2 separate regions of the Homo sapiens genome follow, and region 1 is linked to region 2. Evidence: fine-mapped expression QTL. Tissue or cell type: fibroblasts. Region 2 holds a variant in brackets; the other region holds the start of a gene. All regions are shown on one strand. Distances are between the middles of the regions.

Region 1 (8,139 bases), 100 kb after region 2:
CAAAGGGGAAGCAAGACACGTTTTAAATGGCGGCAGGCAAGCAAGAGCACAGGGGAAACTGTCTGTTATAAACAATCAGATCTCCACGAGGTCAGGAGATCCAGACCATCCTGGCTAACACAGTGAAATCCTGTTTCTACTAAAAATACAAAAAATTAGCCGAGAATGGTAGCGGGCACCTGTAGTCCCAGCTACTTGGGAGGCTTGGGCAGGAGAATGGCGTGAACCCGGGAGGCGGGGCTTGCAGTGAGCTGAGATCGCGCCACTGCACTCCAGCCTGGGCAACAGAGCGAGACTCTGTTAAAAAAAAAAAACAAAATCAGATCTCGTGGGAACTCACTCACTATTATGAGAACAGCATGAGGGAACAGCCCTTATGATCCAATCACCTCCCACCAGATCCCTCCCTTGACAAGTGGGAATTACAATTTGAAATGAGATTTGGGTGGGGACAAAGAGCCAAACCATATCACACTCCCTGCTAAGATGGCAATGCTCTCTTGCCAATGTTATGTATTTAAACCCTGTTTTAATATTTACCAGGTTGACTGACAAAAATTAATGGTTCATTTAATTAGCATTTCTTTTTCTTTTATTTATTATTATTATTAATATTACTTTGAGACAGGGTCTGGCTCTTTTGCCCAAGGTGGAGTGTAGTGGCACAATCTTGGCTCACTGCAACCTCTGCCTCCCAGGCTCAAGCCATCCTCCCATCCTCCCACCTCAGTCTCCTGAGTAGCTGGGACTACAGATGCATACCACCACGCCTAGCTAATTTTTGTTTTGTTTGTTTGTTTGTTTGTTTGTTTGAGACAGAGTCTCACTCTGTCACCCAGGCTGGAGTGCAACCTCTGCCTACCAGGTTCAAGCACTTCTCCTGCCTCAGCCTCCTGTAGCTGGGATTACAGACACAAACTACTACACCTGGCTAATTTTTTGTATTTTTATTAGAGACAGGGTTTCACTATGTTGGCCAGGCTGGTCTCAAACTCCCGACCTCAAGTGATCTGCCCACCTTGGCCTCCCAAAGTGCTGGGATTACAGGCGTGAGCCACCGCCCCCAGCCTAATTTTTGTATTTTTTGTAGAGATGGGGGGGTTTCACCATGTTGCCCAGGCTGGTCTCGAACTCCTGAGCTCAAGTGATCTACCTACCTCGGCCTCCCAAATTGTTGGGATTACAGGCATGAGCCACTGTGCCTGGCCATTTCTTTGGTTTTGAGTGAGGCTGAATATTTTTACATCTTTTCTCTAAAAATGCCAATTGAACAGCTGGGCACAGTGGCTCACGCCTGTAATCCCAGCACTTTGGGAGGCCAAGGCAGGCAGATCACAAGGTCAGGAGTTTGAGACCAACCTGGCCAACATAGTGAAACCCCCTCTCTACTAAAAATACAGAAATTAGCCGGGTATGATGGCACATGCCTGTGGTCCCAGCTACTTGAGAGGCTGAGCCGGGAGAATCGCTTGAACCCGGGAGGCGGAGGTTGCAGTGAGCCGAGACCACACCATTGCCCTCCAGACTGGGTGACAGAGTGAGACTCCATATCAAAACAAAAACAAAAACAAAAACAAAAAAAACCTGCCAATCGAGCTATGCTTTCCCTTTCTCGAAGGAGAGAGAAGTAATCCTTTTCCATCGTATTTGCTTATAAGACCTTGGGACAAGGAAGCCTTGAGAGATCCGGTGAGGGACTTCGGCTGGCCATCCTATATAGGGTGACTGAACTGGTTATAGCCTTGAAATGAAAGTTCCAATGCACATAAAATCCTCCAGGGTGCATTTTTACTTTGGAAGTGGGTGTGTGTGGTAACTTAGAAAAACTCAGTGGTTTCAGGCTTGGTGGAATGATGTAATTTTTCTCAGGAAAGTGGCGGGGGCCGCCATCTGTGTGTCTCAGCAGTCAGCCCAGGGCCTGACACATTGTGGGCACCCATAACACCTGCAGATTGAATAATTAAACACTGCTGCCTCTGTCCGGAAGGGTAACCCGTTGTGACCCTATATGACCTGTCTGCTGGGGGGAGGGAAGAAGTGTGCTTTTGCATTCTCTTGCACTCATTTATTAGAAACCCTTAGACTTTTTTTTAGTTTGGGTCTGAAACAGTCCTCTTAATATGCAGGAAGAGAGATATTGCCAGTCCTGACTTTGAACTTCTGGAAAGGGCTAAGGGTGAGTGGAACTATAAATATACAAGGGCAAGTCTGACATGAGCAGTTTTATTGTGACCACGTCCTTGGGTCCAGGAGGCTGGCCAGGCTGCCCAGGTAAGCCAGGGTGTCTTCCTTCTGGAAAACCACACTCTCAGGGCTCCAAGTGGCTTTTTCTGGTTGTCTCCCATTTTTCTCTGTCTCCAGGGAAGGACTCCATCTGACTTACCATAGTTACAAGAGTTCTGTGAAAATAATTTATAAGGAAGCAGGTCATCACTGGAATGCCACAATGTTAGGACCAGAAGGGACGGAGGGATTATCTGGTGTCGGGGTTCGCTGTCTCTCTCAACCTACCAGCCGCCAGCCGTGCTGAGTTAATTGTCAGTAGCAGGCCAATATAATGGTCAGTTCAAAGCTTAATGGTTTGTGGGAAACCACTAAAGACTTTAGGGCAGGAGGCCGGGCGCGGTGGCTCACGCCTGTAATCCCAGCACTTTGGGAGGCGGAGGCGGGCGGATCACGAGGTCAGGAGATCGAGACCATCCCGGCTAAAACGGTGAAACCCCGTCTCTACTAAAAATACAAAAAATTAGCCGGGCGTAGTGGCGGGCGCCTGTAGTCCCAGCTACTTGGGAGGCTGAGGCAGGGGAATGGCGTGAACCCGGGAGGCGGAGCTTGCAGTGAGCCGAGATCCCGCCACTGCACTCCAGCCTGGGCGACAGAGCGAGACTCCGTCTCAAAAAAAAAAAAAAAAAAAAAAAAAAAAGACTTTAGGGCAGGAATTTGAGGGTTTTTTTGGTTTGTTTTTGTTTCTGTTTTTGTTTTTTTTGAGACAGACTCTCACTCTGTCTCCCAGGCTGGCGTGCAGTGGCATGATCTCACCTCAGTGCAACTTCCACCTCCCTGGTTCAAATGATTCTCATGCCTCAGCCTCCCAGGTAGCTGGGACTACAGGCGCGCACCACCACTCCCAGCTAATTTTTGTATTTTTAGTAGAGACGGTTTCGTGATGTTGGCCAGGCTGGTCTCAAACTCCTGACCTCAGGAGATCCCCCCGCCTCGGCCTCCCAAAGTGCTGGGATTACAGGCAGGAGCCACCGCACTCGGCCTTGGAATTTGAGTTTTAGAAGTGTCATTCTGCCAGGCGTGATGGCTCACGTCTGTAATCCCAGCACTTTGGGGAGGCTGAGGTGGGAGGATTGCTTGAGCCCGGCAGTTTGAGACCAGCCTGGGCAACATAGAAAGACCTTGTCTCTACCCACCAACCACGAGAAAAGGTGGGAGGGGCGTCATTCTGGCTGCTCTGCTCTGTGGTTAGGACCAAGTCAAAGGTGGAGGAGGGAAAACCGTAAAATCAAGTGAGAGGCTTGGAATAGGGTGGCTGCGTCGCCGGATGGATGAGTGGAGAGAGATTTAGGAGATAGGATTTACAGCATTAGATAACTGGAAAGAGAGGGTGAGGGAGAGGAAGGAGTCAAGATGCCTCCCAGGGTTTTGGCTTGGGTCTCTGGGCAGATGGTGGGGCCATTACTGGGTTAGGAGAGAAGAGAAAAAGCAAGTTTGGCAGAAAGCTGAGTTTGGGGTAAGTTATGTTTGAGGCGCCTGGGGGCCTCCAGAGGCAGGTGTCCAGGTGGCTGGACATCAGGGTGTGGCGCTCAAGAGAGGGTTCTGGAGTGGTCGACACCGAAGTGGAGAGGAAGCAGTGAGGTGTTCTAACAACGGTGAGGAATTGGGGAGGCCGCTGGGTTCGGGGTATGCAGAGTGTAGCGGCCACGTAGCTGGCGATCTCAGGCACGTGACTGCCTGGTCCTGTGGCCCCGCGCTCGAACACTTTCAGCACCCAGGCAGGGGGTAAGGGGCGGTGTTGCCCCCTCCCGGGTCCCGCCTTTCTGCCCGCCTCTCATCCTCTTTAGCCATTGGGCAATACCTCTGTCCATCAAGGGCCCGCCTCCGCAATTGAGCCAACCAGGGCTGGCGGGAGGGCGCTTCCTTCTGGAGCTGGGTCCTGACTAGGGACCGCCTGGGTGAGGTGAGGACCTGGTGGCCGCAGTTGTGGCACTGTGCGCAGGCGCTGAACTGACCGGACGGAGCGGGCGGCTGTGGCCTCGCCAGCTGGTGAGAAGCGGGCGAGGGTCCGAGGTAGGGAAGGTAACGAGCGGGGGATGTGGACACCTCTTTCCCCGCCAGGCCTCGCCGGCGCCTGACCCTCCCGGCCTGCGGCACCGGCTCAGGTGACTGGGCGGAGGGAGAGCTGAGGTGAGGGGGCGGGTCCGCGGCGGAGAGGGACCAGCTGGGCCTACGACCACGGTCACCCCACTCACGTGCGCGCGCCACGTGGGCCCGCGGGCTCGCCGAGGACCCTTGGCTGCCTACCGGGGCACCCCACTAGCTGCTCTGGCCTATCGAGCACCCCTTGGAGCTCTGTGTCCCGACTGCACGCCCCTGTTTTACAGGCTGGCAAGCCGGGGCTCAGAGGCACCAAGCGGGTCGCCCGGGGGCACCCAGCTGGGGTACGGCCGTGCCGGGGTTCTAGGGAGATCGGTTTTGGTGGGCTCCGGAGTCCATGCACTTAGCGATGAGGCTGAAGTCAGAGATTTGAACTTGGGACCTGTCTGTTTTCTTTAAGGATGCAAGAGGGTTTGCGTCCTGGCTGCGGTGTATCACCCTGCACCGCTGCCTGCCTTGACTGCAGGGCCGGAGCGTCAGGCGCCCTCTGCTCCCGGACAGACCGCCCCCGCACCGACTTCTGCGGGGTGGGCTGGCAGGGGGTGGGGGAGTGAAGGGACGGTCCTCAGTCCTGGGAACTCTTGAGGTCCCGACAAATGATCTCGAGATCCCGAGGGCAGGATTCATACATGAAAAGCTCATTATAATGGGTCAAGGTTTTGTTCTGTTTTTTTTTTTTTAATTTAATTTAATTTAATTTAATTTAATTTAATTTATTATATTCCAAGGAAAAGTACCACCAGGGCTAGTGAAGGGACTAGGAAACTCGTCACCCCCTTGAGGAGGCAGATGTGAAGCTTTTGGAAATCAGTTTGGCAATGAGTCTACACCCTTGGACCTACTGACTCCTTGTTTGGGAAATAACTAGGATAAAACCTAAGTAGAGAAAAGGTTACTGCATAAAGCAGTACAGTTTGGTGGGGTTTTGTTGTTGTTGTTGTTTTTAAAGAGACAGATCTGGCTCTGTCGCCCAGGCTGGAGTGCAGTGGTGTGATCATAGCTCACTGCAGTCTTGAAATCTTGGGCTCAAGCGATCCTCCCACCTCAGCCTCTTGAGTAGCTGGGACTACAGGCACTTACCACCATGCCCAGCTAATCTAAAAATTTTTGTAGAGATGGGGCACTTGCTGTATCACCCAGGGTGGTCTTAAACTCCCTAGCCTCAAGTGATCCTCTTGCCTTGGCCTCCCAAAATGCTGAGATTATAGGCATGAGCCACTGTGCCCAGTCCAGTTTGGTATTTTATATTAATAAATAGCAAGTAGTAGAAACAACCTCTAAATTTCCAGCCGTAAAGAATAGTTAAGTAAGTTGTGATTATTTATGTCAAAATGTAGCCATCAGATGTGAAAAAATACTCTTATCAGGAAAGCCAGATTCAAAGTTGGGGTTACAACTCTACAAAAATACGTACAGAATGACTGTGCGCAGTAGCTCCCACCTGTAATCTCAGCACTTTGGGAGGCCAAGGGCGGAAGATCGCTTGAGCCTAGGAGTTTGAGACCAGCCTGGAAAACACGGGGAGACCCTGTCTATTAGCTGGGCCTGGCGGCACATGCCTGTAGTCCCAGCTATGTAGGAGGCTGAGGCAGGAGGATCCCTTGAGGCCAGAAGGGCAAGGCTGCAGTGAGCCACGATCTTACCATTGCACTCTAGCCTGGGGACAGAGCCAGGCTCCATCTCAAAAACAAAACAAAACAAAAAAAAACCAAACAAAAAATACCCAGAATGACTTAGAGGGGTATATACCTAATGATGAAAATAATAGCTACTTTTTTTTTTTTAGCAGAAGCGTCATATTTTATTAAATTCTCACAAAACCTTCTAAGACTAATATTCCCATTCCACCAATAGATAACTGGAGTGTTACCTCATCAGCAGTGTGTCTGATGCTACACAAGATAGTATCACAGCTAGTGTGCTATTGGGCCTCTGAAAATGTCATATTTAGCCAGTATTTGAGGACTTAGTGTGTGCCGGGTACAGGGCCAGGCACTGGAAAGCTGTTGGTGAGTAAGGCAGCCATAGTTGCTTGAGTCATGGAGTTTATAGACTAGTGGGGAAATATACATGTATATAAAATTTAGTTTTTGAGACAGGGTCTTGCTCTGTTGCCCAGGCTGGAGTGCAGTGGCAGGAGCACAGCTCATTGCAGTCTTGACCTCCAGGGCTTAAGCAATCCTCTCACCTCAGCCTTACAAGTGAATGGGGCTATAGGTGTGCGCCACCATGCCCAACTAATTTGTAAAAAAATTTTTTGTAGAAACCAGGTCTCCTTATGTTGCCCAGGCTGGTCTTGGAACTCCTAGGCTCAAGTGATCCTCCCGCCTCAGCCTTTGGAGTGGTTACAGGTATGAGCCACTATGCCCGAAGCAGATTATTTATTTATTTATTTATTTTTGAGACGGAGTTTCGCTCTCGCCCAGGCTGGAGTGCAGTGGTGCAATCTTGGCTCACTGCAAACTCTGCCTCCTGGGTTCACGCCATTCTCCTGCCTCAGCCTCCTGAGTAGCTGGGACTACAGGCGCCCATCACTGCACCCAGCTAAATTTTTGTATTTTTAGTAGAGACGGGGTTTCACTGTGTTAGCCAGGATGGTCTCGATCTCCTGAACTCGTGATCAGCCCACCTCGGCCTCCCAAAGTGCTGGGATTACAGGCGTGAGCCACCGCGTCAGGCCTGTTTTTGTTTTCTTTGAGACAGGGTCTCACTCCCTCTCTAGTGAGGCCCAGGCTAGACTGCAGTGGCACAATCACTGCTTTCTGCAGCCTCAACTTACCAGGCTCAGATGATTCTCCTACCTCAGCCTCCCAAGTAGCTGTGACTATAGATACACACCACCATGCCTGGCAATTTTTTTATTTTTTTTATTTTTTTGGAGAGACAGGGTTTCACCATGTTGCCCAGGCTAGTCTCGAACTCCTGGGCTCAAGCTATCCACCCACCTTGGCCTCCCAAAGTGCTAGGATTACAGGCATGAGCCACCAGGCCTGGCCCCCGAAGCAGATATTTAAATGAACACTTATAGTCTGCTGGTGAGAGTGAGTTTAGTGTATTTTAAATAGTTTATTCTAAGTCATTTTTGTTCAGGATATTAGCAAATGTTTTCAGAAGTCAGTATTTTTAAGAAATTAAATTTGTGGCTGGGTGCTTTGGCTCACGCCTGTAATCCCAGCACTTTGGGAGGCCGAGGCAGGTGGATCACAAGGTCAGGAGATCGAGACCATCCTGGCTAACATGGTGAAACCCTGTCTCTACTAAACATACAAAAAATTGGCCAGGTGTGGTGGCGGGCGCCTGTAGTCCCAGCTACTCCAGAGTCTGAGGTAGGAGAATGGCATGAACCTGGGAGGCGGAGCTTGCAGTGAGCAGAGATCACACCACTGCACTCCAGCCTGGGCGGCAGAGCGAGACTACGTCTCAAAAAAAAAAAAAAAAAAAAGAAATTAAATTTGAAACTTCAACTTTTTAATTTTTAGGTTTAAAAATATCCTTTTTTGCTGAAGGAACACATTTGCTGGTATAGTTTCAGAATGTCAAGTACTGTGTCCTACTGGATCTTAAATTCTACAAGGAACAGCATTGCCACATTGCAAGGGGGTAGACGCTTATACTCCAGGTATGTCTCAAATAGGAATAAATTAAAATGGAGGCTCTTTTCCCGGGTGCCACCCACCCTAAACAGTTCCCCATGTGGTGGCTTTACTCTGTGCAAAGCCTACAGACACACATCAACAGAGGAAGATGATTTTCACT
Region 2 (8,000 bases):
AGAGATTAGAAGAGAGAGGGGTAGAGAGGAAAGTGGAGAGAATTGGTAAGAAGGAGTAGATTGAACAGAGGGAGAATGGGAGGAAAGTAGAGAGGAGGAGGAAAATAAAAGGGGGAGAAGAAAGAGAAAAGAGAGAGGAGACAGTAATAGGTAGAAAAAGAAAGAATCTTTGAAAGTTTTAACAAGGAGAACAGAATCAGATTTGTGCAGCAATGTGCAGAGTGGGCTGAAAAATGAAGGTAGAAGGGAAGGAGCTTTCTCCCTGTGCTGCAGTGAGAAAACCACTGCAATAATATTGGTGAAAGATGTTGTGGGTTTAAGGGCCTACTTTGGAAGAGCAACATTGGAACTGGACAGAAAGGGATCAAGAGGGGTAAACAGAAGTAGAACTACAGGTCTTAATGACTGACTTAATACAATGAGTGAAGGAGAATTAGGAGCTGAAATGACTAGTTTGAGGTCTGAATGACTAGGAGAAAAGCAATACTTTTAAGACCTTCACATAACTGGAAGAAAAAAAAAAACAGAAGTATATTTCCGCTTTACTATTTTAATAACCACACTCAATAAATCCAATACTTACCACAATCCTCTGTGCAATGACCAAGAGTAAGCATGATGCTAAATTTTTCTCCTGAATCCAGACTTTCATGAAGCAGTAATGCCAGAAGTTTAGAAACAATGTGGTACTTGGAGAGTACTATCCCAAAAGTAGCTATTAGTATAAAATAGGAAAAAAAGATAGTACAAATTTAAAACTTATAAATGTATATATACTATGTATTTTTCAGAGTTTATTCAGGCAGAATGTTATATATCTATATAAAATTAAATATACACATATCATAACATCTAATAAATATGTGTATGTGTGAATATAAATAAAATATAAATTCATTGTAATAAGATGGCGGCCTATTACTATAACCCTCATTACTCTTTCTTCCCATACTAAAGACATATTACTAAAGCAAATTTTTTGAAGAATTTTTTTCTTAATTGTTCTGCAGAATGCTGTGAAGATGAAGTAACACTAACTTCCTAAAAGCTGAGTATGCTTACTCTCCCCTTACATACCTCTTCTTATCTAGATTGGATAGTAAAGACTTTCCTACATAATCAGTTCCTGCTGTCATTTAAAATACACTATTAACTGACCACAGTTCTACTGACTTACTGATGCAATGAAGCATATGCAAAGCTATGCTGAGATGTGACAAAAGTCAAAAAGACCACCATTTTAAGCTATACTTCTCCAAATGTGGCTTTTAACAGAGTTCACCCAGAGTCTAACAATACTAATATCAACAAAAAAGTTGTGAATTCCTGAAGGGACTACATCTTAATCATTTTTGTACTTGTAAAGCTCCACACATAGCAGGTCCTCAATAACCACTTTTTAAAAAACCATCTATTTTTTGCTCCCTAGTTGTTTGTGAATAATAATAGAGTTTCTTACTCTTCAGTGTTTGCGCATGTGAGAAGCAGCAGCCATGAGTTCAAGTCTGGTTCTGCCACTCACTAGTAATGCTGTGTTGGGTAAATCTGACCTCATACTTAGCAGAAAGAGATGTATTCTTTACATAAATTGGGTTTTCCATTCTTAATCTCAAAAATATCCCTTGGTTTCTCATCTGAAAATTTTAAATTTTTTTTTTTTTGAGAGATGGAGTCTCGATATGTTGACCAAGCTGGTCTCAAACTCCTGGCCTCAAGCAATCCTCCCATCTTGGCCTTCCAAAGTGCTGGGATTACAGGTGTGAGCCACCACACACAGCCTGAAATTTTTAATTTAATGCTGCCTTTTTTTCCAGATGGAGTTTTGTACTTGTCACCCAGGCTGGAGTGCAGTGGCATGATCTCAGCTCCCTCACTGCAACCTCCACCTCCCAGGTTCAAGCGATTCTCTTGTCTTGGCCTCCTGAGTAGCTGGAATTACAGGCACCCGCCACCACGTTTGGCTAATTTTTGTATTTTTAGTAGAGATTAGGTTTCACCATGTTGGCCAGGCTGGTCTTGAACTCCTGACCTCAGGTGATCTGCCCGCCTTGGCCTCCCAAAGTGCTGGGATTACAGGCATGAGCTACTGTGTCCAGCCATGTTGGATACTTTCTAATACTTCCTTCCACCTGTGAGAAACTTAGTCTAAACCATGTTACTATTCAATCTACTATTTCAACACTCTTCATGCTATATTCAAACAAAATTCAATTTCAAAAAAACTAGTAAGCACTGTCACTCACGATTATCAGCAATGCATGCATCCACAGTCTTCGTCACAACCACTGCAAGTTTAGCACTGGAAAGAGTCTCATGTGAATCAGATTCCAGCTGCATGAGAACTTGAGACAATACATCCAGTCCGCCCACAGATACGAAGTATTTCTGAACATATGCTTAAAGAATAAAGTAGCAAAACTATTAATATTTCAAACAAGACAGCTGAATGGTTTTATTCAATAAATCTGCATTAAATATAACATTGACCTTTTCAAATACTTTCTAAAAATCCCAAAATTAAAGAACTAAAAATCCAATCTTTACCTGTGCATATAATCATAAAATAGATTACTTATTATGTATCTTACTTTGACACAGTAAAACTACAGTATTTCTTGTGTACTAGAAATCTTTTTTGTTTCATTTAGTAAGAACTGCTCTATTTTGTAAGAATGGCATTATTAAGCTGTCCTTTAGGCCGAGCATGGTGGCTCATGCCTGTAATCCCAGCACTTTGGGAGGCTGAGATAGGCAGATTGCTTGAGTCAGGAGTTCAAGACCAGCCTGGCCAACATGCTGAAACCCCATCTCTACTAAAAATAAAAATAATAAGCTGGGTGTGGTGGTGCATGCCTATAATCTCAGTTACTCAGGTGGCTGAGGCAGGAGGACCACTTGAACCTGGGAGGCAGAGGTTGCAATGAGCTGAGCTCACACTACTGTACTCCAGCCTGGGTGACAGAGTAAGACTCTGTCTCAAAAAACAAACAAACAAAAACAAAAGAAAAAAACAAAAAAAACACCTAACCCTCAACATTATTAAACAAGTCTTTCAATAGAGTTATAAAGAATATATTCATTCATTTATCTTGGTAATTAGCAAGCTGCCTATTTTCTGCAATCCAACATAACTAATTCCTCAGATTGACTCCTCAAGATGCAAAGTAATTTAACC[G/A]TTCTAAAAGAGCATACATCTCATCCATCATATTTACACCTAATTATTTTACTTCTTGGAGCATAAAATTATAACAGATCCCTGAGAGTCGTAACTATTCCAAGCAAAGATTCAATGACCGGTATCTATTTCTTTAAGTCTGAAGTCTTTTGTTCCCTAGTGGAAAATAATTCTGGGCCGGGCACCATGGCTCATGCCTTTAATGACTACAGGCGTGCACCACCATGCCTAGCTAGAAATTTTTGTATTTTTGGTAGAGACAGGGTTTGACCATGTTCCCCAGGCTGGTCTCAAACTCCTGAACTAAAGCAACCTGCCTGCCTCGGCCTCCCAAGGTGTTGGGATTACAGGCGTGAGCCATGGCGCCCAGCCCAGAAACATTATTTAAGGGCAGGCAAACATTTTCAATATTATGGTGGCTCCAAAATAGACTTCTTTCCTAGAAAGTATTTTCATTTTTTAAAAATCTTCAAAAAAGAGGCTGGGTGTGGTAGTAGCTCATGTCTGTAATCCTAGCATTTTTGAGAGGCTGAGGCAGGAGGATTGCTTGAATTCAGAAGTTCAATATCAGCCTGGGCAACATAGTGAGACCCCATCTCTACAAAATAAAAAAAAAAAATTGAAAATTAGCCAGGCTCAGTGGTGTGTGCCTGTAGTCCCAGCACCTCAGGAGGCTAAGGCAGGGGGATCACTTAGGCCTAGAAGTTTGAGGCTGCAGTGACCCATGATTGTGCCACTGTACTCTAGCTGGGGTGACAGAGTGAGTGAGACTCTAGCTCAAAAAAAAAAAAAGCACTTGTTAATGCATTGATGAAAATGGCAGTGTGTTACCACAGATTCTTAGTTATAGCCTAAGTGACAAAAACTCAGGCATATAAGCAGAAGAACATCCTAGACCACATTTATTGTACACTGAATATTTCAGATTTCCTCTGATCTGTAGTTTACTGAGGGTAATGACGTCCTATAACTATCACTCATTAAAGTTGGCTTTTAGAGATAAAGGGACTGTTAGGGTATCACGGAAATAGATTCCAATTTTTTTTGAATTCTAGAGATACATCCTTTGCATGTGACATATGAGTATTCGTTTCAAACACTTGAATATAGATATACATCAGCAATGTGTGAAAGTTCTAGTTGTTCCACATCCTTGCCAATATTTAACATGACCACTTTTTAACATGCTAGTGGTGTGTAGTAGTATCTCCATGGGATTTTAATTTGGATTTCTCTGATAACTAATTATTTCTTGAGCATTTTTTTCCTGAGACAAAGTCTTGTTCTGGCTCTGTCACCCAGGCTGGAGTGCAGTAGCGTGATCGTGGCTTACTGTAAGCTTGAACTCCTGGACTCAAGTGATTCTCTTGCCTCAGTTTCCTGAGTAACTAGGACTAAAACAGGTGCATGCCACCATATTTGGCTAATTTTTAGAATTTTCTTGTAGAGACAAGGTCTCACTACGTTGCCCAGTCTGGTCTCAAACTCCTGGGCTCAAGCGATTCTCCCTCCTTGGCCTTCCAAAGCACTGGGATTACAGGCATAAGCCACCATGCCCAGCCAATCTTAAACATCTTTTCAAGTGCTTATTTAATATTCATATCTTCTTTGGCGAAGTATCTGTTCAAATCTTTTGCCCATTTTTTTTAATCTTTTAATCATCAGGTTGCTTTTGTCTTCTTACTGATTTATAAGAGCTGTTTACAAGTTTCTGGGTACAAATTCTTTTTTTTTTTTTTTTTTGAGACAGAGTCTCTCTCTGTAGCCCAGGCTGGAGTGCAGTGGCGCAATCTTGGCTCACTGCAAGCTCCACCTCCTGGGTTCATGCCATTCTCCTGCCTCAGCCTCTTGAGTAGCTGGGACTACAGGCGCCCACCACCACGCCCGGCTAATTTTTTTGTATTTTTAGGAGAGACGGGGTTTCACCGTGTTAGCCAGGATAGTCTCAATCTCCTGACCTCGTGATCCGCCTGTCTCGGCCTCCCAAAGTGCTGGCATTACAGGGGTGAGCCACCGTGCTGGGCCCAAATTCTTAATCAGATAAATGTTTCTTAAATATTTTCTCTCAGTCTAGCTTACCTTTCATCCTCATAGCAAGCTCTTCCGAAGAGCAAAATTATTTCAATGGAGTCCAATTTATCATTTTTTCTTTAGTTATTTATGCTTTTTGTGTCCTTAGAAACCTTTGCCTACCCCCAAGGTGTGAGAATCTTCTGCTTTTGTTAACGTTTTATATTTTTCACTCTTATACTTATTTAAGTCTATGAACCATTTCAAGTTAGTTTTTGTATACTGTATAAGGGTTCAGATTCATATTTTGCATATAGATACCCACTTTTTCTAGCATTATTTGTTGAAAATATCTTTTCCTCCACAGAATTGCAATGGCATTTTTGTAGACAATCAACAACAATATATGTATGAGTCTATTTCTGGGCTCTCACTTTTGTTTCCTTAATCTGTAAGTCTACAAGGCCAGGTGCGGTGGCTCATGCCTGTAATCCCAGCACTTTGGGAGGCCAAGGCGGGAGGATCACTTGAGATTAGGAGTTCAAGACCAGCCTGGCCAACATGGTGAAACCCCATCTCTACTAAAAATACAAAAATTAGCCAGGCTTGGTGGCGGGCACCCGTAATCCCAGCTACTCAGGAGGCTGAGACAGGAGAATCACTTGAGCCTGGGAGGTGGAGGTTGTAGTGAGTCGAGACTGTACCATGCACGCCAGCCTGGGCAACTAGAGTGAAATTCTGTCTCAAAAAAAAAAAAAAAAAAGAATCTGTAAGTCTATACCTACACCAAAGCCACGCTTTCTTGATTTCTGTATAAGTATTAAAATCAGGCAACACAGTCCTACGGTTTTATACTTTTTTCCCCAAAAGTTTCAATTATCCTAGCCCCTTTGCATTCCATGTAAGTTTTAGAAGCAGCTTGTTAATTTCTAGAGAAAAATCTGCTAGGATTTTGCTTGGGAATTCCATGAGTCTAGAGATGAATTTGAAAGTGACGTTCTTACAGTGTTGAGTCTTATAATCCAGAGTATTATATATCTTTTTTATTTTTGTTACTCTGTGTGTGTGTGGCTGGGGCGGTGTTACAGGATCTCCCTGTTGCCCAGGCTGGAGTGCCATAGCACAATCATAACTCACTGCAGCCTTGACCTCCCAGGCTCAAGCAATCCTCCCAAGTAGCTCAGACTACAGGTGTGAACCATTACACCTGGCTAGTTTTTAAATTTTTCTGTAGATACAGGGTCTTTCTATGTTGCCCAGGCTGGTCTTGAACTCCTAGATTCAAGTGGTCCTCCTGCCTCAGCCTCCCAAAGTGCTGGGATTATAGGCATAAGGCACTACACCTAGTCTCTTGTCTTTTTCCCAGTCTCAAGGGGAAAACATTAAGTCTTTCACCGTTAAGTGTGTTACTTGTAGTATTTTGTAGAGGTCGTTTATCACATTAAGGAAGTTTCCTTCTGTTCCTAGTTTACCATGAGTTTACAGATGTAGGTTGAATTATGTCAAATGCTTTTCCTGCATCTATTGAAATTATCATATTGTTCTTCTTTTCTAGACTGTTAATATGATGAATTTTCTAATGTTAAACCAGTCTTGCATTCCTGGGATACACGCCACTTGGTCATAACATATTATCTTTTCTATATATTGCTAAATTAGATTTGTTAATATTTTGTTAAGGATTTTTACATCTATGTTCATAGAGCTATTAGCCAACAGTTTCTCGTAATGTTGTTTCTGGGTTCTGATATCGGTGTAATGCTGGCCTTATATGTTGGGAAGTGTTTCTCTCACTTCTATTTCCTGGAATAATGTATGTGAAGTTATTTGTTTGTTTCCTGAAATGTTTAGCAGAATTCGCCAATGTAACCATTAAGGCCTGGAATTTCCTAAGCTAAGGTTTTGTTTTGCGTTTTGTTGTTGTTGTTGTTGTTGTTTAGAAGTGGGTTCTTGCTATGTTGCCCAGGCTGCAGTGGCTATTCTCAGGTATGATAATAGCACACTATACCCTTGAACTTCTAGACTCAAGTGATCCTCCCACCTTAGTCTCCCAATAGCTGGGACTACAGGCATGCGCCACCGTGCCCAGCTTGTGTTAAGGTTTTAAACTACAAATTTGACTTCTTTAACAGATATAGGAATATTCAGGTTACTATTTCTTCTTGGGTGAGCTTTGTTTGGTAGTTTGTATCTTTCAAAGAATCTGTCCAACTCATCTAAGTTGTTAAATGTCATGACATAAAGCTGTTTCTACTATTCTTTTATTACTCTTTTAATATCTGTTAAGATCTATAGTGATGTCACCTTTCATTCCTGGCACAGGTAATCTGAGCTTTCTCTCATTACTTTGTGATCAGTCTGGCTAGAGGATCACTTTTATTGATTTTTTCAAAGAATTAGCTCATGTTTCAATTATTTTTCTCTATTTCACGATTTCTAATCTCTTCATTATTTCCTTTGTTATGCTTATTTTAACTTACTTGGTTGGCTAATTTCTTAGGTAGAAGCTAATATGGTTTTTTTGGGTTTTTTGTGTTTTTTTTTTGAGACAGAATCTGTCTCTGTTGCTCAAGCTGGAGTGCAGTGGTATGATCTTGGCTCACTGCAAGCCCTGCCTCCCAGGTTCAAGTGATTCTCCTGCCTCAGCCACCCGAGTAGCCGGGATTACATGTGCACACCACCACACCAGGCTAATTTTTTTGTATTTTTAGTAGAGACAAGGTTTCGTCACATTGGCCAGGCTGGTCTGGAACTCCTCACCTCAAGTGATCCTCCACCTCGGACTCCCAAAGTGCTGGGATTACAGGTGTGAGCT

What was found. PIP is the estimated chance that this variant, and not a neighbour inherited with it, causes the effect.
Region 1: PDP2 starts here. The variant in region 2 is fine-mapped to the expression of PDP2 in fibroblasts (GTEx, PIP 0.91).

The regions. Positions count from the first base shown.
Region 1 is chr16:66,876,369-66,884,507 of GRCh38, forward strand. PDP2 (pyruvate dehydrogenase phosphatase catalytic subunit 2) reads left to right here and starts at 4,147. Exons shown (of 2, transcript NM_020786.4): 1 at 4,147-4,272; 2 at 7,863-8,139. The coding sequence starts at 7,917. RefSeq lists enhancers at 1,661-1,710, 3,861-3,940, 4,189-4,961 and a silencer at 4,421-4,600.
Region 2 is chr16:66,776,620-66,784,619 of GRCh38, forward strand. TERB1 (telomere repeat binding bouquet formation protein 1) reads right to left here. Exons shown (of 19, transcript NM_001136505.2): 10 at 2,244-2,396; 11 at 584-715. Among named protein-coding and RNA genes, the nearest start is that of TERB1, 21 kb to the right of the region's middle. The variant G/A (reference allele first, on the strand shown) is at 3,176.